Regions from separate parts of the Homo sapiens genome. Here regions 1 and 2 are each linked to region 3. The links come from fine-mapping of genetic effects on gene expression. A gene starts in region 3. Each other region holds a variant in brackets. All regions are shown on one strand. Distances are between the middles of the regions. Region 1 holds the start of CLEC3B (C-type lectin domain family 3 member B). Region 2 overlaps TGM4 (transglutaminase 4). Region 3 holds the start of EXOSC7 (exosome component 7).

Region 1 (10,791 bases), 53 kb before region 3:
CATCCCGTCATCAGGGCTCCTGAAGTCAGCTGAGGCTTTCGTGGCACCACAGTACAGCTCGACTTCTCCTTCTGCCCACTCCTGCTTCCTTCCATCCCTTCCCTAGCACAGGGGTTGATCCTGAGGGTATCTCCTGATAAGTCTCCTGTGGGTTAAACTCCATCTCAGAGTTGCTTCCTAGGACCCTCACCTGAACCTCCCTCCAACACATAGGTAGTCCTCAGTCAATGCTACTTCTCGTGATACTATCATTGCTGCCAACATTTTGTTGCTCTGGTCTATTCATGATCCTGTCGATTTATGCTAGTCCTCCACACCTCTGCTCCTGCCCTGCCATCTGCTTGGAATCAACCCTCTTTATCTTCTCTGATTCCTACACAGCTTTCAAGGGCTCAAGTGATTCCATGAATATATTGAGGTTCCCAGGGAGCAGGGCCCTGGCTGCATCACCTCTGCCTCCTTGTGCCTGGCAGAGATGTACCAGGTGGGAACCTCCCATGTGTATGCTGGTTGGAGGAGGGAAAGGTTGCCCCCTGATTCCTTCAACTCTGGTTAGGTCAACAGAGCTCTGCAATGCTTTGGGTGGGTTTATTGAAAAGGTGATCTTTGGGTTGTGAGGACAATGAACAGGAGAAGGCCCCAAGAAGCCCAGCAGCTTCCTAGAAATCAGCAGACATGGGGGCTTTCATATGTCATGCTTTGGGCCTCCATATGTCATGAACTTTTTTCAGGGAGGTCCCCACCTCATTACCTCACCCCAGGTGGCAGTTGATGCCTGGGTTACATTGACTTTGCACAGCACAGAGCTTAGACATGAGAGAGACCTTAGAGTTTACCCTGCCTACCTTACAGATGAGGAAACTGAGGCTCAGAGTGGCACTGGGCTCATTCTAAACATACCCGCTGTGCCAGGCACTGTTGCCTCCAAATCCCTTCTCTCTTGTCCACCTCCACTATAGAGGCTGGAAAAGCTACATTCTTGCATTCTCAGATGTTCTTAAAGCTGCAGGTGGCCATATGATAGATTTCTTGTCAATGAGATGGAAGTGGAAGACTACGTTCCCTATAAATGAGACAGATGTGGTTGGGCTACTCTTCCTCCTTCTTGCCTTGAATGCACTCATGATGCCTGGAGTTGGGGCAGCCATCTGAAGACCATGAGGTGAAACTTCTGAACAAAAACTTATAACTACCTACTTGCAGACTTACTTTTTGTTTAAGCCACTGATAGGTTTCCTATTACATGAAGTCAAAAACACCTCTGGAGATGCTCCCTTTCTCGAGCACTCTCTTCCTACCTGCCATGCCAAGCAAGCTGTCCAAAGTTACATGTTTGTCCTTCCTTCAACAGAGATTGACTGAGTGTTGCTATGTGGCAGGCACTATGCTGGGCAGGGTAGTGGAAGAGACAAGGGCAATGAAAAGCAAACATGGCCCTTGTGTTCTCAGGGCTTACTATAGTCTAGTGGAGGCAGCAGACACAAATCAGGAAATGAGTGTATCATTACAGACTGCAGTCAGTGTGATAAAAGAAAGGACACTGTTCTGGGAGAGCTTATAACTGAGGAGCTGATTGAGATGAGGGATTAGTGACTCCTGAGAAGATAATGCTGGAGGCATTTATTAGGTGGATCTTGGGGGAGCAATTCAGGTTGCCCAAACAGCACATGCAAAGGCCCTGTGGTGGGAGTGCAGAAGGATGGCAGTGTGAATGCTGAAGGAAAGCATATGAATGGGAGGGAGTGTGTAAAACCATCCGGTGAGAAGGCTGTTGGGGGTTTCTGAGGAGGCAGGCGGGGAAGGGAAGGCCTTGCAGATGGATGGGCCTTGGTCACAAAAGCAACAGGTAAGAGAGTGGCTGTGGACACAGGGTGGTTTATAGATTTGCTGAGGAGTCAAGGTGATTTCCCAGCTGATAACTCGAGGGGCAGCATAGCAGAGCTAAGTGAGGCTCTGCTCCTTTCGGCTGTCACAAGGTCCTTCTCGGTGGAAAATAAGGGTGAGGATGTAGTAACAGGACCACTGCACGGGTGTGCTGTGAATGAGTTAACGTGCATCAAGCATCAAGAACAGTGCCAGAATGTAGTGGGCTCACATGTAAATAGTCATCAGTATTGTGAGTCTGCATCAAGCATCAAGAACAGTGCCAGAATGTAGTGGGCTCACATGTAAATAGTCATCAGTATTGTGAGTCTGTGTTCTCCATAGAATGGAAGGTGAGGTCATATAAAGGTAGGTAAATCGGAGGTATGTGGAAAATGCAGACTATATGACAGGAACATGGGGAGTGAGAAACAATAGGCTGCCAGGTATGCTGGCCAGAGGGCATGACCTTACCATGCGCCTGGGCCCTGTTCTTGGTGATTCTGTGCACCCTCCCTCAGCTGGCTAGTGCAGAGCCAGGAACACCAAGGCCCAGCTTGGCACTGGGCAGCCTGCCTCCATTCAACTCTTGCTCTTCCACGAGTCAACTAACCAACGAGGTGAGTATGAGCCAGGTTCAGGACCTGTCTATGCCTCAGTTGCTGCTGACACATCTTTAAAATGGAGCTGACATTTCATGGAGCTGACAGCTCATCTTTAAAATGGAGCTGACAAATCCCACCTCAGCAGAGTTACGATTAAGAGAGACAGGGTCAGCAAAGCTGCTGACACACAGGAGTGTGGAGCTCTCTGGGGCTGCAGAGGCCAGCTGAGTGAGGGGCTCCTGGGAGCTTTGCTAGGGTGGGCCACTACCTCTGCCCCATCGAGCGCTCCAGGGTCACTTCTGGTGGGCAGTAGTGGATTCTTGTTGGAGAATTTTTTGTCCTCTTGGGACATCCCCACTTCCACACCACCCAGCTGTGGCCAGAGATTTGGCCGTACACATCCAGGTGAGTTTTGCAGACACGTGTCAGGGGATCTCCCCAAGAGAAAGAGGTGGGGCTCCCTGAACCTGGTGCCTTCACCCATAGGCCTGGACTAATGGAGCCAGGACCCTGATGCTGAACGGAGGCGAGAAGAGCATTGCTGGCTGCTGGCCTGGGCCCTTCTCTCAGACGCTCCTGCCCAGAGAGGCTACTGCCTGCACTCACCCGTCTGCAGGGCCTGCTGCTCCTTCAGCAGGGCCACCTCCTGGGCCAGGGTGTCCAGACGGCTCTTGAGCTCCTCAAACATCTTTGTGTTCACAACATCTGAAGCAGGAGGAAATATGTCAGGGTGGGGCAGGGACTGAGCAGGAAGGATCCTACCTTAGCTGCAGAGGGATGAGAGGAAAAGACTCCCCTCAACCTTGATATCTTGGGAAACTTTCTCTCTCTCTATCCTTGCTGGTGGTAGTCTAATTAACCACTTGTGACTTCTGCCAGGGGGCCCATCCTTCACTTGCTCCTGTGCTGCATTTGTTTGGGATTGTTGCTGGGGATCAGATGGGGCTGGGATTAGCAGAGGCAGGGGTGAGGGTGTAGGCACAGGCTTCAGTGATCCCCCACCACCCAGCTACCTTTTCAGCTCCAGGGAAGAACAGCACAGGAAGCACAGCAGGAGCCCTCAAGAAGCCCCCAGGTTCACTTCCCCAGGCTGGAGGAATGCGACACAGACCAGCAGGCACTCCAGCCTGGGGCACGCATATGCAGGGCTTGGAGGTGCCACAGACACGGGTGGCCTGGGCGAGCTGCTCAGCCTCTCTGGATTTGGTTCCCTCATGTATGAAGTGGATGATGACAGCCCCACCTCCTAGGACTCTGGAGAAGACTAAGAGAACTGAAACGCAGAGCTGCCTACCTCAGTGCTTGGCTGAGTGTGTGCCCATCACAGCTACTAATAAGATGAGGGCAGAAGGAACCCAGGTTTTCCACTCTTACAGAGGAGGCCAGGCTCTGGGCTAAGCCGTTCTACATGTCACCCCATGTGATGCTCATAATCAACCCTATGACACAGGTAACGTGTCATTCTGTACCACCAGCATTTCACCATGAGGAAACCCAGGCTGCCCTAAACCAACTGGCCGAGGATGGCAGAGCCCCAGCTGGCAGGGCTGGCCTGGAACCCAGGTGCACATGGCTCTGAAGCCATGCTCTTCCCCACCTTCCCCATGGCACACAAACGGATTCCTAACAGGAGCTGTCCTGCTGGCAGCCAGTCATGTAAGAGTCAGCAGGGGAAGGCGGGGAAGCATATTTCTATGTGTGTGTAAGTTGAGGGTGCCGGGAAGCATATTTCTATGTGTGTGTAAGTTTAGAGCTCCTGGGGCGGACCCTGGTCTTTCTGAAACACCAGGGCTTCAGGAAAGGCTGCACTCAGCTTGGGGAAGTGGGTGGGGAAACACTTTAATGGTCCATTTGGCTGTGTCTGCATACATTCCACACTCACAAAGAGTGAGATCAGAGCCTTCGTCCACCCATAAGGTGCCTTTGCAGAAGAATCACAGGCAAGACACATGGTTGTGTATATAGAAATTAGCGATGTAACTTACCAAACTGGAGCAAAAACACCCTGATGAGCAAGGCAAAAAAAGGGAGAGTTTGGGGCTGGCAAACCAGCCTGAGGTCATGTGTGCCTCACACAGAGACTGCCTCCACCAGTTATAGCAGCACTGTACCCAGTCACGTGATGTACCAGCATAGGGTGCCATGTGAGGCTGTGCAAGGGGGCACTGAAGAAGGGCATTCTGCTGAGGGACACATGAAGGCCCATTTGTCTCCTAAGCCTTGCCCTGGCTAGAGTGGGTCAGACCAGAAAAAGAGATGCCTTTCTATAATTTGTCAGTTTAGAGGAGGTACCTTTTGTAATTTGCACCAAGGTGCCCATATGTGCAAAGTTTCCTCCAGGGACTGTCCAAGGTACAGGAAGCTACTCTCATTAGCTCCACCTGAGGAAGCTGTGGGAGTAGGTGTCTCTACGGCCCTGGGCAGAGTCAGGAGGCCTTTGTGCTGGCCCACTCTCTGAGCCTCAGGTTCCTTCTGCGTGATGTTAGAATGGATGCCCTCCAGGTTCCCCCAGTTCCCTGTTCTAAAGGCCTGTGACTCCTATGAGGCCATCCTTCCCTCCGGAGCTTCCCTGCCAGGTGTGACCATGTGGCCCCA[A/C]GAACAGATGAGCTCCCAGAAGTACTCTAGGCTCCCCGCTTCTCACCCACCCTGAGGGCCAGGACAAGGACTTAGCATATGCTGGCATTCCCTTCCTTTGCCAGTCCTGCCACTTGCTCTCCCCCTCTTGGCCCTGGCACCAACTGGTCTCCTCTGGCATGACCGTCCCTTCTTTGGACTTTCTCCCGTACTTTTGGGCACCAGCCCTGCAACTAGATTGCCCCTGAGATTCTCATTCCTGGCTGCTCCTAGGAATCCCTGAAGACCTGTGGAAAAGGCAGATGCTAAACTCACCAAGATCCCTAAACCAGCATTTCCAGGGGTGGGGCCCAAGCACCTGAATTCTTAACTTTTATTTTATTTATTGATTTATTTTTGAGACGGAGTCTCACTTACTCTGTCACCCAGGCTGGAGTGCAGTGGTGCAATCTCGGCCCATTGCAACCTCCACCTCCCAGGTTCAAGCAATTCTCCTGCCTCAGCCTCCTGAGTAGCTGGGACTACACGTGTACACCATCACACTCAGCTAATTTTTGTATTTTTAGTAGAGACAGGGTTTCACCATGTTGGCCAGACTTGTCTTGAACTCCTGGCCTCAAGCGATCCTCCCACCTTGGCCTCCTAAAGTGCTGAGATTACAGGCTTGAGCCACCACGCCTGGCCAAGGCACCTGGATTCTAATGTATCTCCCAGATGATGTTGATGCCTGAGTGAGAACCACCATGGTTCATGTCTTAAGAGCAGAGACGGTGTTTCTCTGCTGTGTGTCCAGCATATAGACTGGTGCCTACGTGGAGAAAGAGCTCTATAAGTGCCTGCCATGTTGGTGGGCGGGAGACTGCCATGGGTTTCAGCGAGAGGCAGGGCCTGGGTGGCTGTTCTGTTGGCCTGTAGCCCTGGAACTCCAGGGGCCCCTTCTATGGAGACCACATAGGGCCAGGGTTCAAGTGTGACAGCTGGAGAGAACCAAGGCATCACGTGCTCTGACCCTTTTTTTTTTAACATGAGTTTAAAAAGATTTACATAATTATATTAATACTGAATCTTTGGTAAACTTGAGAAGCTGGCGATGGTTTTCCACATTCAAAAATTCTATGATTTGCCTTTGGAGCTGCATCTTTTACAAAGGCTCTCCCTTGGTGGCGATTTTGGCTAATGCTCATAGACGTAACTATGCACGGTATTGTCTTCTCTTTTTAAATGAACATTTTGTGGAAGGTAATATACACACATAATTTTTTAAAATCCAAACAGTTCAAAAAGCTGGTTTCTTTCCCAGTTGAGACTGCGCCCAGCCCCTGGTTTTTCTTCCCAGAGGTAATCACTGTTACTCACTCTTGTGGATCCTTCCAGAAAGAACTTATGCACATACAAGTAAAAATGTATTATTATATAAATCCCTTTTTCAAAGCAAATGTCAGCATCATACTCATTCTCTTTTGAATGTTTCTTTTTTCACTTTGTAAACTGAATCTTGAAGATGATTTTTTTATCAGCAGCCAGATTTGCCCCATTCTTTGTCACAGTGTTGTGAGGCCCCATGGCCCCGATGTCCCTTTATGCACTGCACTAGTTCCTGGCCAGTGGGCAACTGTCCATTTATGAAGAGCCCCGGGAGGGCCTAAGGGAGGCCCCCACAGCCCCTTCTTTCCTTTTCTGTGCCCTTGGTCCTAGCTGCTTGTTTCTCTGCCTCAGTCCCCACCCTCATCCCCTTGGACTCTCTTCTAGCCTCTGCTCCCTGGGGGGGTGACAGCCCCGTCCATTGCCATGACATTCCACTGATGTTGTCTCAACACAGCCTGGGGTGACCTCACTGCAGGCGGGGCTGCAAGGGCAAGTCTTGCTGTAGCCAAAGCAACCGAGGGACACCCCAATCCCCAGAGGCTACAAAGCAGAGCAAAGCTGCTTCTGGTGGACTAGTCTGAGTTACATTTATTTCCTGAAGGCTGTGATATGCTACAGAAATGAGAATTCATTTCTTCTTCTTTTTCTTTTCCCTGTGCATCAAGCAACAAGTGAGGTGCCTTTATATATTTTGTATCATAAAATCTTCATGAGAAGTCTTTGAACAAATACCACTGTCCCCATTTTACAGTTGAGAAAACAGGTTGGAAGACTCCAAAGCCCAGCCTGTGCAGCTCTCCCTGGTAAGGGCTGAGCGCTGCCAGACTCCCAGGCCAAAGGTTTGGTTTCTTTAAAATATTGGGGATGAGGGGAGGAGAGAAGAGCAAAGATCAGTTTGGATGATCTGGAAGGTTCTTCCCAACTCTAAGGGTCAGGGATTCTTATGATTCTGACAACCAACTCTGCTATGAGAGAACTCCCCCAAGCCCCAAAGCCCACTTTACTCAAGTTCCCTAGATGACTCAAAAGGAGGAAAATGAAGGAAAGGAGCATGAGGACACACTAAGGAGAGGGGGACCTGCTCCCTGGAAGATGGCACAGGGCTCTGTCCCCCTCCTTACCTTTCTTGGCATTTACAATCTTCTTGGGCTTCTGGGTTGGTGGCTCGGTGGTGACCTGGGTCAGGAGGGAGAAGAGGCAGAGGAGGAGGTAGGCCCCCCAGAGCTCCATGCTGCTGCGCGGGCGGGGGCTGCTGCTGCCTGCAGCGGGTCTGGGTCCGAACGCAGTGACAGCCACGGCCCAGGCTGCACGTCTTAAGGCAGCAGCCAAAGGACCTCTGTCCAGGAAACCCTCCCCAACTTGGCTGCAGGCGTGCCAAAAAAATAAAACAAACACACAAGCCTGCAGAAGGATGAAGTCCTGAGGGCCACAGAGCCTCTCTGCCAGGGAACACCCACGCAGCATCCTGGCCCTGCCTTCTAGAAAGAAGCCCTTATTTCCTAGGATTCTGAGAAACACACGGTGGTTGTCATCACATCTGCGGAGCAGCTACCTTGGGTAGGGGCTGAGGCTGGCTGTTCACTAACATTAACTCACAGAAGCTTCACACCCAAACCACGAGGGAAGCACTGTCCTTTCCCCATTTTACCATTGAGGAAATTGAGGCTCGGTGAGGTTAGGGAATTTGCCCAGGCTACCCAGCTGTCACGGGGTAGCAATGCCCCCTTATAGGGTGATCTGGGGCTGGCTGTCTGATTGGTTTAGAATATTTGTTATGATTATTTTGTGGCTCTGTCTCCATGTACTTGATGCATTTTTTGGTTAAAAAATCCAAGGGATTCCTTCCCTTCTTGTCTTCCCTTTCTCCTGAGTCCTGTCCTAAAGCCACAAAGTGGGGCATAGCAAAGGTGGCGGAGGGAGAAGCCATCGTGCCCCAGAGGTACCAGAGAGGATGTGGGGAGAATGTGCCCTCAAGGGGTGGACTGGTGTGGGGTGTGGGAGCCCAGCAGGGTGGAGGGAGCATCCTGGGGAAAGCAAAGGCCCTGCCTGGAGTGCTGGAGTCCAAGTGAGGCAAGGAGGGGATCCATGTGGGAGAGAGGCTGGTGGCAGAGACGGGAGATTGGTTACACACAGGGATACTGATCAAATAAATCTACTGAAGACAGTGGGAGTTAGGTTTCCTATTGTCAGAGAAGGAAGTTATGTATATGGAGAGAAAACTGGAATGAATCCTGTTGTGTGGGATTAAAATCGGAATGATCAGTGTACCCTTGTGGCCTTGAATACATAAAGATAAGTCCATATATATAGATGGAAATGTGTGTGTGTCTAGTCCCCACAGTCACTGGGGGGCCTGGAGCAGCCAGCCCCGCATAGCCTGGAGCACTCCTAGCACCTGAATACTGGCTTCTGAATATGACTTTCCACTAAAGGAACCAGAGCACCTTGCAGAAACGGCTGATTCTAGCACTGGGAAGTAGGAGTGGGGTGCAGAAAATGAGCCCGGAACTTGTTGTTTTGCCAGAAAACAAGGAAGTGCTTAATGAATAATGGGAACACGTCAGTAGGACACAGAGCCAGCTTGAAGGAGCCTTCAGTGGTCAGAATCAGGGACAATTTGAGCACCAACATAGTGACAGTAACAGATGGGAAACCACCAGTGCACACAGATATAAGTAAGTAAGGGAACGCATTGAAAGTCTGATGTTCTTCAATGGGATGTTTACATAGCCTCAAAGTATCTGCCCACAAAACACTTATCCATTCCAGAGAGAAAAAGAGCAACTTCATGGTGAAGAAGGCTGGCAGACATCACCTCATCTGTGACCAAAGTAAACATCAACAGGGCCAATAAAAAGCTTGCAGCACCTGGGGGGCTGCAGTGAGAATGTGGCATCACTCCATAGGACTCCGGCCAGAGAGACATCAGACAATCCCAAATGGAGGAGCATTCTGCAAAATGACTGCCAGTAATTTTCAAAGCTCCTGGCTGAGGAAGTGTTTCAGGCTGAAGGAGACTGAAGACACAGAACTAAATGCAATATGTGATTCTGGACTGGACCCTCCATTCTCAAGGATGCAGTTGGGACAACCAGAGAAATCTGATGGGGTCTGAGGAGCACACGGCAGTGATGTGTTGTCACATGCTGCATCATGACAGTTCAGTCAACAACAGGCCACATATGTGATATGCTTCCATAAGATTATAATGGGGCAGAAAAATTCCTAACACCTAGTGATGTCACAAAGGGTTGTAAAGTCATAGTGCAACTCATTATTCCCAAGTTTGTGGTGATGCTGGTGTAAACAAATTTACTGCCAGTCATATCGAAGTAGAGCATATAAGGTCATGTTAGCACATAATACTTGATTTTGTTAGTCCGTTTTCACACTACTCTAAAGAACTGCCCAAGACTGGGTAATTTAGAAAGGAAAGAGGTTTAATTGATTTACAGTTCCACACGGCTGGGGAGGCCTCAGGAAATTTACAATTGTGGCAGAAGGTGAAGGGGAAACAAACACCTTCTTCGCAAGGAGGCAGGAGGTACAATGAATGCAGGAGGAACTGCCAAACACTTATAAAACCATAAGATCTCATGAGAACTCACTATCACAAGGACAGCATGGGGGAAACCACCCCCATCGTTCAATGACCTCCACCTGGTCTCTCCCTTGACACATGGGCATTATGAGGATTACAATTCAAGATAAGAATTTGGGTGAGAACATAGTCAAACCATATCATTCTGCCCCACATGATTGTGCTTTGAAATGTGAGAGCATGAGATTTGGGAGGGGCCGGGGTGGAATGATATGGCTTGGCTGTGTCCCCACCCAAAATCTCACCTTGAATTGTAATCCTCATAATCCCCATGTGTCATGGGAAAGACCAGGTGGAGGTCATTGAACCATGGGGGCAAGTTTCTCCCATGCTGTTCTCGTGATAGTGAGTCTCATGAGATCTGATGGTTTTATAAGCATCTGGCATTTCCCCTGCTTGTACTCACTCTGTCCTGCTGCCATGTGAAGAAGGTGTCTGCTTCTCCTTTGCCTTCCACCATGATTATTAGTTTCCTGAGGCCTCCCCAGCCATGCAGAACTGTGAGTCAATTAAACCTCTTTCCTTTCTAAATTACCCATTCTTGGGCAGTTCTTTATAGCAGTGCGAGAATGAACTAATACGATGATAATAAATGACCGTGTCACTGGTTTATGTATTTACTGTGCTATACTTTTTATCATTATTTTAGAGTGTACTCTTTCTACTTTTTTTTTAAAAAAGTTAACTGTGAAACAGCCTAAGGTGGGTCCATCAGGAGGTTTTCCAGAAGAAGGCACTGTTATCATAGGATATGATAGCTCCATGTGTGTGACTGTCCCTGAA
Region 2 (5,000 bases), 69 kb after region 3:
GGAGTTGAGGGGAAAAGAAGCCGACCAAAAAGCTTAAAAGGAAAAGCTGAGGGACAAAATGTCCACGGGGGCTTTGAAAAGCTCAGACAGATTCCTGGAAATCTAGAAGGTCTGAGAAAGATCTGATAAGGCTCTCACCTCTAACTGACCTTGAGGCTCAAGCAAGAAGTGAAGGCAGAATTGTAAATTGCCTGCCAGAGCATTGAAATGTACCCTAACTTGTACACAGAGCCCCTTGCCAAAGGCTAGGAGTCTTAATGATTCAAGGAATTTAAAGCAATATCCATCTAATCATTAGCTGACCATTCAGCAAACTGAGCAGAGAATTCAGTGGTCATGGACAAGAAAGATTATAGAATTTCTGGAATTATATCAGAGAAGTTGTTAAACAAATAGCAACCACAAAAGCAACCCTGGGATGGGGGACAGGATCTGATTTCCAGAGTTGCCATATTATGTTCTTTAAAATGTCCAATTTTTAACAAAAAATTACAAGACATGCAAACAAACTATAGGCCATACATGGTGGTGTGGGGGTGGCAGGGTAGGAACATGGAAACAGTCAATAAAAACTGTCCCTAAGGAAGCCCTGACATTGAACCTACTAGACAAAGACTTTAAATTAGCTATTTTGAATATATTCAAAAAACTAAAAAAAAAGTGTGAGAACAAATGGCTTGCCAAATAGAGAATATCGAGAGAGATTAAAATTATTTTTAAAAAAGAACCAAATATAAATTCTGGAGTTGAAAAGTACAATAATAGCAGATTAGAGCTTGCAGGAAAATCAGCAAACTTGAAGACAGGTCATAAGATTATCTAGTCTGAGAGACAGAAAGGAAAAACAATGAGGAAGAGTGAACAGAGCCTCAGAGACCTGAGGGACACCATCAAGTGTAGCAGTTGACAGACACCACTGGTCTCCCTCTCTATCCTTTCCCTCCCTCCCTGATACTTCTGTCACCCTGCAAAAAAAACAAAAAACAAAAAACAAAAAAAACAAAAACAAAAAAAAACACTCCTGACCTAATTGCTTTTAATCAAGTTTGCTCATTTTCAACACAACCCTGAGGATAAGATTCTATTTCAGAGATAGCAGCTGTAAGACAGGAATTTCTGAGCTTGGTTACAAAGCTCTCCATCCACGTCCATTCTGAACACAAAGAGACTTCAAAGTGGAGAGCTCCAGTTTGTCCTGAGCTGCCTTGGTAGCCATCAATCACTTGCCTCATTTATATGGAAGAAATATTTACTGCAGGCCTACCTTGTACAAGGTTTTACACAAGCTCACAATCAACCCAGGGGTCCAAACTGACCTGCTTGTAACTATACTGCAATGGAGGGTGGGAAAAGCCCCAGCTGCATGGGTACCATCTGCCATCCCATAGCATAGCAAATTGCTCCCTCGTCTATGAGTCCTTACGATTTCCTGCCTTCCTCTTAATCACATCCCATCTTCAGTTTGCCCCTGTCTGGACTCTTGCACCCTTTGAGGATGCTATATGGAGTTGTCTTCCTTTCCTTACCACGTGGTACAGGAACCACAGCCAATGGGCCACAGGGGAAATACAAATCTGTCAGATTGAGGAACATCAAGAACAGAGGCAGCGTATGAGCCTGTGGATAGTAGAGATTGCAAAGGAGACAGTTCAGTTAGGGAAAGCATAAGCAGAGGTTTGGCCAGGGGTGAAAGTAGCCAGCATTTTCAGGTAACAGCAGGCAGCATGGCTAGGGGATGAACTTAAGCTCAGGAAGGGAGCCAGAGGCCAGCTCTGCAGGGGCCAGAAAGCCAGGCTGAGAAGATGTCTAATTTACTGGGCACTGGGGAGAACGGACAGTCTTAGCAAGGTGAATGAGCTGGTCAAACAATGCAAAGGCCTCAATTAGGATTTGTCTTTTTGTTTGTATGAGACAGGGTCTTGCTCTGTCACCCAGGCTGGAGTGCAGTGGCATGGTCATAGCTCACAGCAACCTCAACCTCCCTGGCTCAAGCAGTCCTCCCACCTTAGCCTCCTGAGTAGCTGGGACCACAGGCACATGCCACCACACCCAGCTAATTTTTTTTTTTTTTTTTTT[TTTTG/G]GTAGGGATGGGGTTTCACCATGTTGCCCAGGCCCACCCCCAATCTTGACTATTTTCATGTTCTGGGTGACTCAGGGGCTGAGTCAGAAGGAGCCCTGTGATGCTAGCACCTTCTGGATACTTGTACTCATAGGTGATATCTCTCCGCCTGTCTTGGCCCACTGCCTTGGTGCTGATGTTTTTCCCGATGCTTGTGGTCTCCATTGAAATTACGTGTAACTCCTCCTGCCCATTCACCATCTTCACCAACCAGATGAGCCTGTCACCATTCACTTCTGAGAAGACGAATCTGGTGTCATAGACAATAAAGATGTCACCTTTGCGGATGGCGGTCAGTGGTGATGGCCCACAGCAGAAGACACCTGAGGGGAAGCCAGGGGTGGTCACTCTCAGTGGGGTTCCCCAGCCCACCCAGCCTGGACCCAGTGGCAGCAATGATTCCCAAACTCAAACAGGACTGGCAAGCAAATTTTGCCCAAGAAGCATCTGGGTACTCATTTCCTAGGCCATCCTTAACTATTCTGAAAAGAGGGGCACATCTCAGCTTTGACTTGAAGAGTGTCAGGAATCCTCTGTCCCAGTAATAGGAAGTCATGCTGCCTATTAAACTCATCCCAGCACATCAGTCCCCAGTAGAGCACAGAGACACACAATCTGGGTCTGATTCCTGGCATCACACCTTGGAGCTATGTGACCTTGTGCAAGGCATTTCAGCTCTCTGTGGCTCCATTTCCTAGAAAACTGGGAATAAAAACAGCACTTACCTTCTAAGGCTATTGCGAAGATTAAATTAAATAATCCAGGCAAAGTACTTAGCCCTGTGCCTAAAACAAATGCAAGCTGTTGCTATGGATCTGGGCTAATAAGAACATTTCCATTCTAAGAGCTGTCTATTTATTTATTTATTTATTTTTCATTTTTGTTAAGAGCTGTCTTTTTATTTCTAGCATGGGGATAGAGAGTTCCCTTATTAGTCATTGACAACTTAATGAGAATTAGTCTCTTGACTGATAGTTCCTCAGTAGTAGCTTTGGTTTTTACATACCCTTGTATTCTGGGCATTGGGCTTTCTGCTTCCACTATTTTTATTTAATCCTCAACACACAGGCTCCTCTCCCTTGCCTCTTTAAGGCAGCCAAACCTGTGAATTCAGTGTATTGGAGGACTAGGACTCAGGAGAACTGGTCTCCTAATCTAATACTGGTTCTTCTCCTAACTTGTTGACTGAACCTGGGCATCCCCACCCTCCCTCTCTGGCCTTATCTATAAGGTGAGCAGGTTAGGTGGGCTTTTAAGGCCCCTTTTCTGGCCAGGGAACAGGGCTTCCTCTGCCTCTCAGGCAGATAGTGGCACTGCGCTACTCACTGCCTGGTTGCTATGGCTACTGTCCCACCTCAGCAAATGCTACTTAGACTCCCTGGATGGAAAGAGCCCTCAATACTGCCCTGCTGAGAATCTTCCTGCAGAGTATGCGGGGGTGTGGGCATATCACCTGCTCCTCCCACCTCTGGGGGCCACCTCCCACCACCCTCACCCCCTATTATAAGGGCAATGCCTTATCTTTGGAGAAATGTGGAGGCTGTTTTCACTTTTAACAGCATTTTTTTGCCTTCAGGGCCATGTGGGCTCACATTGCAGCTGGAGGAATCAGGAGTCTCACACTGATGGGTGGAGCCCGCAAAGTATGTTTAAATTGTAACCTGAATGCCTTTGGGGATCTGCATGCTCATGTCTCTAGGTCCCCATCTTCCCAAGTAGACAGCCCTGTTCACTCTCTGGCCCTGTGGGCAGATGAATTTGCTATCCTTGGGATGAGGCTCACAGCCAAACTAAGACTTATTCCTAGAAGAACCTTGAGAGACATCTACTTCAGGGGCTGCAGGAGTGAGGCAGAGATGTCAGGGAGGGGCCGGCTGGTCCCTGGGCACACTTCAGCTGGAGTAGTTCTGCTTTACATTATGAGGTGGCACACGAAGTTTCCTTCTGAGCAGTTGGACTGCTTTTTTCAAAAAAAAAAAAGTTTGAGGCTGGGTGCGGTGGTTCACACCTGTAATCCCGGCACTTTGGGAGGCCGAGACAAGCAGATCACCTGAGGTCAGGTGGTTGAGACAAGCCTGGCCAGCAGGGTGAAACCCTGTCTCTACTAAAAATACAAAAAATTAGTCAGGCATGGTGGCAGGCGCCTGTAATCCCAGCTACTCGGGAGGCTGAGGCAGGAGAATCACTTTAACCTGGGAGGCAGAGGTTGCAGTGAGCCAAGATTGCACCATTGCACTCCAGCCTGGGTAACAAGAGTGAAACTCCATCTCTAAATAAATAAATAAATAAAGGCCAGGCACAGTGGCTCATGCCTGTAATCCCAACACTTTGGGAGGCCAAGGGAGGTGGAGCACGTGAGGTCAGGAGTTTGAGACCAGCCTGACCAATATGGCAAAGTCCTGTCTCTACTAAAAATGTAAAAATTAGCCAGGCATGGTGGTGTGCACCTGTAGTCCCAGCTACTCAGGAGACTGAGACAGGAAAATTGCTTGAACCTGGGAGGCAGAGGTTGCAGTGAACCGAGATTACACCACTGCACTCCAGCCTGGGCAACAGTGAGATTCTGTCTCAAAATAAATAAACAAATAATTTTTTAAAATTTGAGAATTATTGAGCTAATCTATTTTCCCTTTACTGGGCTGACTTTGTCTTTAGTACTAGGACTCACTATTTAAAATAAAGATAACTTGATTCCACAGATTTTCCAAGTAACCTCAGACCAACCCCATGCCTCTGCTTCCCCAGCTGTACAAAGACACCCTTGTCCCCCGGCAAGGTCCTTCCAGCTACAAGGGGCCACTGTCTTACCCAGAAGTTGGTAACCCATAACCAGCTGAGATAAGCATCCCCATTATGTCTGACTTGGGCTGAATCCTGGTCC
Region 3 (10,791 bases):
TTCTTTATCTCTGGTCAGTGGCTTACCCATGGGCCAATGTCTGGTGGCTGCCCCCAAATTTCCCAACACTTTATGATAATGTCCATTCTCAGGCCCCAGCCCCAGAGAGTCTGATTCAGAATGTTGGGGTAAAGCCTCAGAATCTGTATTTTGTAGGTGAGTAAAATGCACTTCAAGGCTTCAGAATCCCTGGGCTAAGAGGGAGGTTAGCAATGGCTTCTCATGGATGAGGAAAACACACATCTAGCCCAGTAAGCCAGAAAAGAGGATAAATCCTAGATTCTAAAAATTCTGAAGTCTGCTCCAAGTTCTGCATGGTATGGGCAGAGTAAATCGTTTATGATACTAGTAAGACAAAAGCTATACAAAGAAATGCAATATAGGGTTCTAAAGGAACTTATACTCAATGTGGGAAAAATGCAACCAAAACAATACAGCAGTATATGCCATATACTATTTAAGCTCTAGAAAAACTGGGGAGTGGGAGGTGTCAATTAGAACTTTCTCTTTCCCTTCCAGTTTCCCCACAAGCTTTTAGAGAAAGGGGGAAAGAAAAGGAGGTAGAGGAAGCAAAGATTCTCTCCTGCCTTGATCTCTGGATCCCTACTGAGGAAATGGAAGAAATGACTTTCACTGCAGCAGGAAGGTGGCCTCAGAGTCAAGTATGGGCTTTGCAATCAGACAGGTCTGGATTTAAATCCCAGTGCCACCACTCAATTACTGTGTCACCTTGACAAGCGACTCAACCTGCCCGAGCTCAGTTCCTCATCTATAGAGATAACATTTACCTTCAGAACTGTTGTAAATATTCAATGAAATAAAAATTATAATATGTACCTAATAAGAATGGGATATAGCCTTCAAAGACTGAAAGAGAACCTAACAGAAACCAATCAAATTATTTATCAAAATACCGATTTAATCCACCTTTTTGATTCTCTGTTCTCCCCTGGGAGAGGGGATCTGTTCACCAGGTTGACTCAAATTGTATCACCTAGACTCCCTTTGCTGGCTTCTGGTTGGGTTTGTCCAGTGGAAGATACCAGATCAGAGGGTGCCCCTCACCCCCAATCTAGTGGCCACATTTCTGATAGTGCCTGCATCTATCGAAGACTATGACTTATGTTGGGCAGCCCTTCCTCCACAGTTCCAGCTATCACTGAAATGTGGTAATACTGTTTCCTCCCCTGGCCCCTTTGGAATAGGGGCAGTAGCCACTCCCAGTAGTTGTCTTGGGGCTCCTCAACATCTCTTATTGGTTCCCTGAAACCCCCCCCATACTGCTCTAGAGTCCCATCATAAAAGTCTCCTGAACTACCTGAAGAGGGTTCCATTTTCTGCCAATAACTAAAATGATCCACCCTCCCTTCTCACAAACTGACTTCTCCCAAGTGTGACACATCCTCTAGTGGCCATGTTTGAGCCTAATTATTCTGTCCATCCTTTCCCTCAACCCCCTAAAAGAACTAGAGTTTCTTTCTCTTGGAAACATGAGTTCAGAACTGAACGAGAAGGAATGGTCTCTTTTACAGAGGAACTGGGAAGGAACCACATTTTTTCTACCACTGGCCCAAGAAATAGAAAACCAATCTGTAGGGAGACAAAAACAAAGCAAAGAGGGGGAAAAAAAAAACCAGCAGAGATTAGGATTCCTGGAGAAACACTTGCAGCCTTGTAATCCATACTGTTTTGCTTGAGCCGATGTGTTGGTTACCATTACTAGCAACTGAATCCTCAACACATCGTGAGGTTAATTTCAACTGCTTCTAACTATCACCAAAACAAGATGAAATATTCCCTGAAATAGTAAAAGAACCAAAGGCTGAAGGGAAAGTGACATCAGAAGCTGAAATGGACGTTACTGGACCAAAGGTGAAAAGTAAAACACAAAATGACTAGGACTATACAAGCAACAGGAGTTCAGGCAGGCACTGCTTAAGGTGCACTGCCGGCACTCTATAACCAACGCAACAAAAGTTTAGGAGATTTCAGAACTGAATCAGTTGAGATTCCATGGTAGGCTCATTCACCTGCATCCTGACCTTTATTTGGATGGTGTAAATTGTGTTTTGCTCCTCTATACATATGGCATATTTTGGGCCAACATTAATAAGCCCTTATGAAGACGTTGATTTGAAGCCCATTACTCTGCATGGCTCTGTGATACACAGAGCTGAGCATTTACCAACAACTGTGCCCAAATATGTCCATGGTACTGGTGAGAGGGAGGTTTAATTTAAAAAATAAAAACACCATCCAACTCATTCCCCCTTTAAAGCTTACATCACCCATTCAATGCTACTAAGAACCTACCAAGTGCTAGACACTGGCTATGCCTTAAGGGTCCCCCATACAGACAAGTCAACAGGCTATTGCCTTCCAAGATCCATGATGAGCGAATGACTGAACCTCTAAGACCTCTAGGATCGTGCTTCTGGCCACCTCTGCAAGCTGATCTTCCACCATTTCCCCCAGCCCACCCCTTGGGCTCCACATGTCCTCCACCTGAGGATTTACAGACTCACCACCCCTTCCTTCTGGAACACTGGTGCCTACTTAATTCTCAGTCATGCTGAGAACTCAGTTCAAATGCTATTTCCTTAGGGAAGCCTCCTCTGACCTCCCAGTCTAGATCGTGTCCGTTTTTTCCTTCATAGCATTCAGTACAATTTTATATATAAACACTCAAGTACATTTATAGTTTCTGCATCTTCCTTCTAGCATGAGAGCTATATAAGGACAGGTTCCTTCCTAGCCCCTGAGTCTAGCTCAGTTCTGTGTTGAATGAATGAATACTGAGTCCTGAAGATACAGAGGAGGAATCCTTGACATGGATTTAGGGGAGCAATTCCACCTCCTTAGGGAAGCCTTCAGAGCATTACAAGTCCCTGGAATTCTTTTTATTTATTAAAAAAAAATTATTTCTTTAGAGATGGGCTCTCACTGTGTTGCCCAAGCTGGTCTCAAACTCCTAGGCTCAAGCAATCCTCCCATCTCAGCCTTTCAAAGTGCTGGGATTACAGGCGTGAGCCACAATGCCCGGCCCCTGGTATACTTTAACTTCAACCTCCACTAACTATACCACTTCCTTGGCATAGATCTTACATTACCTTTGTTTTTATTTTATTCACTTTTACTCTCTGTTTGTCTCCCTCCTATCTTTCATTTATTTCACAACCATGTTTTGGCATCCCTGCTGTTTCCCACATAACATGCCAGGAGCTAGATATATGTTGGTAAATAAAATTAACTAATGACCATGGTGGGACTCTGCTGCTGGATAGCTAATGAACTGCCGTGGGAATTAAGGGTGCTGGGGAGAAAGCTCTAACCTTGAGGTTACAGATATATCCATGCCTCAGTGCCACTTTCAGGGATGAAATGTTGAGAGAAAATAGGACACATGACAGAGTCACTACATCATGGTAAGCTCCGGTAACAAAGAAGACCAAAGGTTTTTAAATTTAGAGGAAAACGGTTATCCGTAATGTGTCCCTAAAAAAATACTTTGAGGATAAAAATCACCTGAACAAAGTGTATACAAAAATATAGCAGGGAAAGACATATCTAACTGCTTTTGGGCATTTTTATGCCCCCTCACACACAAATAACATACATGTTACCCTGTAATACACACATATGTCCCACTGTTGTTAATCCTGAATTATAACTAAAATATGCAACTGTGAGTTCTGACTTTATTATCCAGGCATAATATGCTAAATATTGGCATTTCTTCATATATAAAGGGCCCAGAAGATAACGGCAGGTCACGATTTTTAAATGGACATGTCCTTAACTCACGTTGTGGGACTTCAATGATAGCTGGCCGCTTCAATCCGATGGCTACATCACGGGACCACTGACTTTGCAGTTGGTACTGACAGAGGAAAGGCATGAGGAAAAGAGGTAGGAGCTGTCGCCAGAACTCTGCCAAGGATGGGATGAAGAACTCTGATAGGAGGACCACACCGTAGGTTAACAAGTGGAGACACAGCCGGAGGAGGATACAGGGTAGCTCGTTACCAGGTCCAACATTTTTCAACCCTCGTTCTGGAGTGGTCATAACCAGGGATTTAATATAGAACACAGAGGACATTAGGTTATAGCTGCCTAGGGATCTTAGTTCTTCATTGGCAAAATGGAAACAGCACTTAGGCTATCGGCTGCCTAGCCGCTTTTTTTTTGAGACTCGGCTCACTGCAACCTCCGCCTCCCGGGTTCAAGCGATTCTCCTGCCTCAGTCTCCCGAGTAGCTGGGACTACAGGCGTGCGCCACCACGCCCAGCTAAATTTTTTTGTATTTTTAGCAGAGACGGGGTTTCACCATGTTGGTCAGGACGGTCTCTTGACCTCGTGATCCGCCCGCCTCGGCCTCCCAAAGTGCTGGGATTACAGGCGTCCTAGCCGCTTTTTAAAAACCCTTCCCCCTTTATTTGTACGGCAATTTGTATTTTCAAAGTGCGTTCACCTCGCATGCGCCCTCCTAACCACGAGGTGAGGAAAAGCAGGCCAGAAGCCCACCTCCAAACTCCCATTTCCTCGAAGAGAAAACTGAGGCTCGGACAAGATCTGTGCGCGAACGCCGAATGGATGGCCCTGGGGCCGATGCTCTCTCACTAAGAAAAGGCCTCCGAGACTGCCCAAGCTTCCTGCCCGGGTTCGGAATCTTATAGACCCGCAAAACTGCAAATGCGCTAACAGTCCTAAAAACGTCCACGTTGCCAGCTCTGAATTGCAAACGCCGGCAGCAGAACCGTTTAATCACAAGGTAAACGGAGAGTCGCCGCAGCTCGGCTGCCTCCTCACTGGCAAACCCAGGGCAGGCCGCGACCCGCAGGGCCAGGCTGAACCCGGCGGCCGACCCAACGCCGCTGCTGTAGCTACCTGGACGCCATGCACGATGTACACCTTCTCCGCCTCGCTCAGCGTCACGGACGCCATGCTGCCGAGCTGCCCCACGAGCCGCACGTCATCTGCGCGCGTCCCCTCCTCTGGACCGCGCCCCCACGTCCCACCCCCCCCCGCCCCGCGTCAGCGCGTCATCAACCTGCGCGGCGGCCGCTCCTGCAGCCGCGGCCGCCGCCACTGCCGGGAGAGCTCGATGGGCTTCTCCTGCGCGCCGCCCGGTGTCTGGCCGAGTCCAGAGAGCCGCGGCGCCTCGTTCCGAGGAGCCATCGCCGAAGCCCGAGGCCGGGTCCCGGGTTGGGGACTGCAGGGGAAGGCAGCGGCGGCGGCGGCGGGAGCCCCACCGGGGTCTGGGACTGGGGAACTGCCTCCGGCTTCACGGTCAGTTGGGAAGGGAAACTGGGGTAGGGGTGAAGAAGCTGGGGTGAGGCGAGCCTCACGGGCCGGGGGACTCCCAGTGGGAGAGGCGTGCGGCGTAGTTGCTCAGAGCTGGAGTTGACTTAGGAGCGTGTGTGTGTGTGTGTGTGTGTGTGTGTGTGTGAGAGAGAGAGAGAGAGAGAGAGAGACCCCGACTAAGGAGGGGCGGACGTCGTGATTGGCCCGGGGGTGCTGTTTCCCTGCTCTTCTCCCCTCCATTTCTCTAGTCCCTAGGATGGCTGGAGAGGCGATGCAGCCCTCCCTAGGTAGTTCTTGGTGGGAAGGGTCCGGGAATGGGGGACACTAGTCCTAAGGCGTCCCCACCCCTCCACCCAGGAATATCTCTCGCTGGCTCGCTCACTCTCTGTGACCGAACGCTGTCCCATTACCTTGCTGGGACCTCTTGCCTCGGGTGCTTACCAGAGCGTTGTCCCACAGACGGGGGAGGAGGCGCTTGGTAACCGGCACTGGCGAGGTGCGCAGTGCCCGGACGTCCCCAACGCTTCCTAGCGGGAACTGGAAACCCCGGCTTGATGGAAGTGATTACTGGGAGCTGTGAGCAGTTGCCCGAAAAAAAGCCAACCCCAACCCCTTGCGATGGCCGAGTGGGAGTATGGGCATTGGATACCCGGAGAGGATATCTGCAAGGTGAAGCTGGGGTCACCAAAGGAACTCATTAAGGCGGGGCTGACAAAGTATGGTGCAAGTTTTAAAGGAGCCGTGTGGATAAATGGGAGAAAGTTAACCCAAATTAGTTGAAGCAAGGAGGGCAGGTTAAAGCAATTCTGATGACTTTCCTGATGTTCCATTTTTGAGGACCCTCAGCCAAAAAAAAAAAAAAATGGTATTTATCAGATAGTGGGTTCAAATACAGTTTCAGATAACTATTGGGAGCCTACTATAGATAGGCTTTGTGCTACCTTTAGAACACAAGACAAGTAAAACATACTATGCCCAGAGAAGTTCCCTGGGCAGATGAAGGCTCCAGGGCCAACATAACCACAGATCATGGTGGTTAGAGCTATGATGGTCGCATCAGTGGGCACAGTGGGATTGGGAGGTCGTCTGATAAGGTTATAGAGAGGAAGTGCTTGCTCACATTCTTAAGCATTAAACTGCTGAGCTCCAAAATTGATGATCAGTTCTTCGTAGACTGGACATTAGATGTTTCTTATGTCTCTACGTAATTCTCCACAGGGGCACCTAAAAGGAAGACAGCTTGCAGGGTTGGACTTTGCCTTCCAGGGAAACTGAAAGAGGTGAAGCCGGAAGGATTTCCTCCCTAATGAAGGCACAGGTGCCCCACCTGTTGTGGCACTTAGATGTGTTTGTGTGTGGTTGGACGGCTGGGTTTTATGTGAGGAGCTCTGTTGTGATAAGATAACATGAGATTGCTGATGTTATAAATGATATTTTCTAGATGTGCTAGAGATTGCTCAGAAAGGAGAGACCCTGGAAGTGGGATTTTAGAAGCTAGGATATCTGAGGAGACTGAGGATTTAAGAGGTGACAGCAAATGGACAGATCAGAAAGACACAGGAAGAAAAGCCTGAGTTCAGATACCATGGAGTTATCTTTATATAAAGATTTTCCAATGTCTTAAAATATAGAACATGTATTTGAACTGTCCCCCCCTCACAATTGACGGGAATTCCATACTGGACAAGGGTCTGCAGTATTTGCTAAATAATGTTATGAACGATGTCTTATATATTAGGCTAAGTAGGTAAGAGAGATGTAAACAGTAGAATGTTCCTTTTTAAATTGTCTACTAAAACAATGACAGTCTTCACTAATCATTCGGCTTAAATGCTGCCAGAACATTTTTATCACCTTTGCTGTAATAGTGCATTGGACGTCTTTAAAATCCATAAATTCTGAGTTCTTTTTTAGTGTATTGAAGTAATTCAAAGAACATATGATAACCAAAAAAATCAAGAAGTCAAGGATGGCACAGTATTAAACCGTCTTGTTTTTCCATCACTATTAGATTCATTTATTGAATGAATAAATGAATTGGGGCATACTATTCTGTAGGTTTGTGTATTCTAAAACCTTATACTCTAATTTTCAACACTAATTTACATAGTGCTTATTGTATGCCAAGCATTGTTCTAAGCACTTTATAAAGATTAACCAGGCTAGGTGCGGTGGCTGACATCTGTAATCCCAGCACTTTGGGAGGCCGAGGCCGGTGGATCACCTGAGGTTGGGAGTTTGAGACCAGCCTGACCAACATGGAGAAACCCCATCTTTACTAAAAATACAAAATCAGCCGGGCATGGTGGCGCATGCCTGCAATCCCAGCTACTCGGGAGGCTGAGGCAGGAGAATCGCTTGAACCCAGGAGGCGGAGGTTTTAGTGAGCTGAGATCACGCCATTGCACTCCAGCCTGGGCAACAAGAGCGAAACTCCATCTCAAAAAAAAATAAAAATAAAAAATAACTGATTCAATCCTTGCAACAGCCCTGTGATGCAAGTATTCTTATCCCTATTTTACAGATTGGGAAATGAGGCACAGAGAGGTTAAATGCCTTAACCAGGGTCACAGGTTACATCATTGGTAAATGGCAGAACCAGGACTTGAGACCAGGCAGTCTAGCTCTCCTGCCCATACTCCTAACCATCACCTTACACAGCCTCCCCCCAGGTTTTATTACATTCACCAGATTATTTGGTGAAGGAAATCCCAATTTTGTTATGGCGTTGGTAACTGTCCTATGAACTATATAGTTAATCTTAATTCCAAAAGCAAGAAGTCTGTTCAAGCATAAACTCATATCCCTTGAATCATTTTTCTAGAGGAACATGGAATGTGGTGCTGATGGGATGTTGCTGTGTCTGTTGCAACCCAATATTTTAAACAAGGTAAAAGGTTATATATGAGCAGAATAAGAGCTTAACTCCAAGTAGCTAAGGAGAGAGCCCTCAATGGCAAAGATGGCTGATAGATCTGGTACTAGGGTTGAGTAGCATGCATGGAGACCCAGATTCCAACCGTATGCCATACTCAGATATCTAGAAACTCCAGACAGTGTGTTTGCATGCCTGTGAGTCCCTGGTGTTCTTATGGGCATAAAGAGATAAACTCAAAACACAACACCTGCCTAAAAGTAGTTTAGAATTTATTATAGTGGGGGAGCCCAGGACCTCGAACTACTGCATGAACAAGACAATAAAATAAAGTGCTCAATTGAGACGTGGCAATTAGAAGAGAGGCCAGCCTATAATAAGGTGCTAATTGTGCAGGCCAGGTATCAAATACAAAAGGTAAAGAGCTGCTGCTAGCCACAAGCCGGCAACAATAACATGACAGAGATGGAGTAACTCTGTCCCACCCATCCTTGGTTAATTAAACCAATAAAAGCCAGTTACAAAAGAGCTTCAGGGCAATGCTGAGTCTGTGGTGCTGATGTTGCAGAGAGCTTTTTTGGAGACAGAGTCTTGCTCTGTTGTCTAGGCTGGAGTGCGGTGGCACAATCTCTGCTCACCGCAACCTCCGCCTCCTGGGTTCAAGCAATTCTTGTGCCTCAGCCTCCCGAGTAGCTGGGATTACAAGTGTGTGCCACCACTCCCGGCTAATTTTTGTATTTTTGGTAGAGACTGGGTTTGGCCATGTTGGTCAGGCTGGTCTCGAACTCCTGGCCTCAAGAGATCTGCCTGCCTTGGCCTCCCAAAGTGCTGTGATTATGGGCATGAGCCACCATGCCCAGCCATAGAGAGCTCTTAAAAGCCCAGCAGGAAACCTTCTGTTCCCAGTCCTAAGCAGACATGGCCATGTTTTAGGCCTTTTCCTTTGCATTTTCACCATTAGCCCAGCACCCTTGAAATGTACAAAGTCAGTTACCGTTTTGCCTGTAGATCTGTTTCCTTTAAACACTTTGCATTTGTCCCGCCTGTACCTTGTCTTAAAAGAATGAGGTGGGAGGATCCCTTAAGCCCCGGAGTTTGAGTCCAGCCTGGGCAACATAGACCCCATCGCTAAAAAATAATAAAATAAGTAATAAAATAATGATAGAAATGAAGAATATCTGTAAAGAATACTGTCATAGTCTGGCCAGCAGGTCTTCATCTGTCTTCTAGACATTGTAACTTGAGATTACAGTGATAGAAAAATTGCTAGTAATACATGGGTAAAGCTTACTCTTAATTAGAGGAAAAGTTATACAGTCTTCATGTGTGTTTCATTTTGGGAGAGTGACAGCATGTTTCCTATGTCTCATTAGGGCATATTTGAGAAAAGGGGGTAACAGATCCTGCTTACCAAATGTAGAAATATTTAAACACACACACCCTGATAGCCATGGAAAGTAACAAAGTCTCAAGTAGAAGTGGAGGGGTGATGTCTCAGTGTTGACCTGTTGGGGAAAAAATGAGGCTCATGCCATGCTGCCTTTAGTTCCTTCCTGTTTTGCATTTTAAAAAATCATTTGCTTTCCTCCTCGGAAGCAGATTTCCAGAGACAAATGGCCAGTTCATTCATGGCTGTCAACTGTGAAGGTGAGAAGGCTCCAGGTGCATGTCCCACTTAATTCAGTCATACATCCTAATACATTTGGAATGCATGGGAAATGTCATCATTTCATAGTCTCCTCCAAACCATAGACTTCGTAGTATGTATTGACTTGGCACTTGAACTCTTGGCAAGATATGAATATGTATTTCCTATTCAAGGTCAGTGGAGATGCAATGCCTTTGAGTGAGATCACTTTCTTACCTTAGCAAGGTAAGCCTAATGAGACAAGTACAGTTCTGGCCACAGTCCTGTTGCAGTAAAGTCTTCAGTATGTGAAGTGTATGTTTCTAAACCAAGAAATAGTAGCAGAGAATCTAGAAAGACAGGTTGTTTAGGAAGATAACAATCTATGGTAGAAAGACTTCCGGGCATCTTAGTCCAAAGATTTGGGCTTTGCTATTAACTTGCTTTATGACTTTGAACAAGTCAGTTAACCTAAGTCTCATTTTGCCCTCAAGTGAGTATCTTGCCAGGTTTTTAAACTCAGAATGGATCCTGGATATGCAAATATTTGAATATTGAAAAATGACCATGTTTAAATTGGGGTTTTTAAGACTTCTTTCATTTACCACTTCATTATACTTGATATATTTTGCTAGTGCTTTTTCCACTCTGAAAAAAATTAAATGAACAAAAGGAAGTCGTAATTTTATGCTGTACTTGATTGAAAAAACTAAACATGCTCAGGAAATTGCTAAGAGAGATAGTTACTAGTGGGCTTCTTTTTGAATATTAGCAAATCGGGAAAAGAGGTAAGTGAAGCTTTTGGTAAAAAAATGTAAAATCCAAGATATTAACAAAGAAAACGTTGAATTTGCTCCTGAGAACAGAGGACTCATAGAATCTCAGCCCTGCAAGGGGCCCTAGCAATCAGCGTGATCTTCCCCTTTGTTTTATCAAATGAGGAAACTGAGGCCCAGAATGGTAACTGTCTTGCCTGAGATCATGA

Evidence for each region. PIP is the estimated chance that this variant, and not a neighbour inherited with it, causes the effect. A credible set is the group of variants that fine-mapping cannot tell apart.
Region 1: its variant is the best candidate, but not a certain one, in a credible set for the expression of EXOSC7 in whole blood (TOPMed, PIP 0.80).
Region 2: its variant is the best candidate, but not a certain one, in a credible set for the expression of EXOSC7 in monocytes after triphosphate RNA (Kim-Hellmuth 2017, PIP 0.83).

Annotation. Positions count from the first base shown.
Region 1 is chr3:45,023,209-45,033,999 of GRCh38, reverse strand. CLEC3B (C-type lectin domain family 3 member B) reads right to left here and starts at 7,697. Exons shown (of 3, transcript NM_003278.3): 1 at 7,529-7,697; 2 at 3,075-3,173. The coding sequence starts at 7,637. RefSeq lists enhancers at 6,316-6,815, 6,816-7,317. The variant A/C (reference allele first, on the strand shown) is at 5,064.
Region 2 is chr3:44,904,391-44,909,390 of GRCh38, reverse strand. It overlaps TGM4 (transglutaminase 4), which reads right to left. Exons shown (of 14, transcript NM_003241.4): 10 at 2,191-2,442. Among named protein-coding and RNA genes, the nearest start is that of TGM4, 32 kb to the right of the region's middle. The variant TTTTG/G (reference allele first, on the strand shown) is at 2,077.
Region 3 is chr3:44,970,431-44,981,221 of GRCh38, reverse strand. EXOSC7 (exosome component 7) reads right to left here and starts at 4,978. Exons shown (of 8, transcript NM_015004.4): 1 at 4,888-4,978. The coding sequence starts at 4,944. ZDHHC3 (zDHHC palmitoyltransferase 3) reads left to right here and starts at 5,048. Exons shown (of 7, transcript NM_001135179.2): 1 at 5,048-5,289. RefSeq lists silencers at 5,012-5,081, 5,202-5,301 and an enhancer at 5,524-6,068.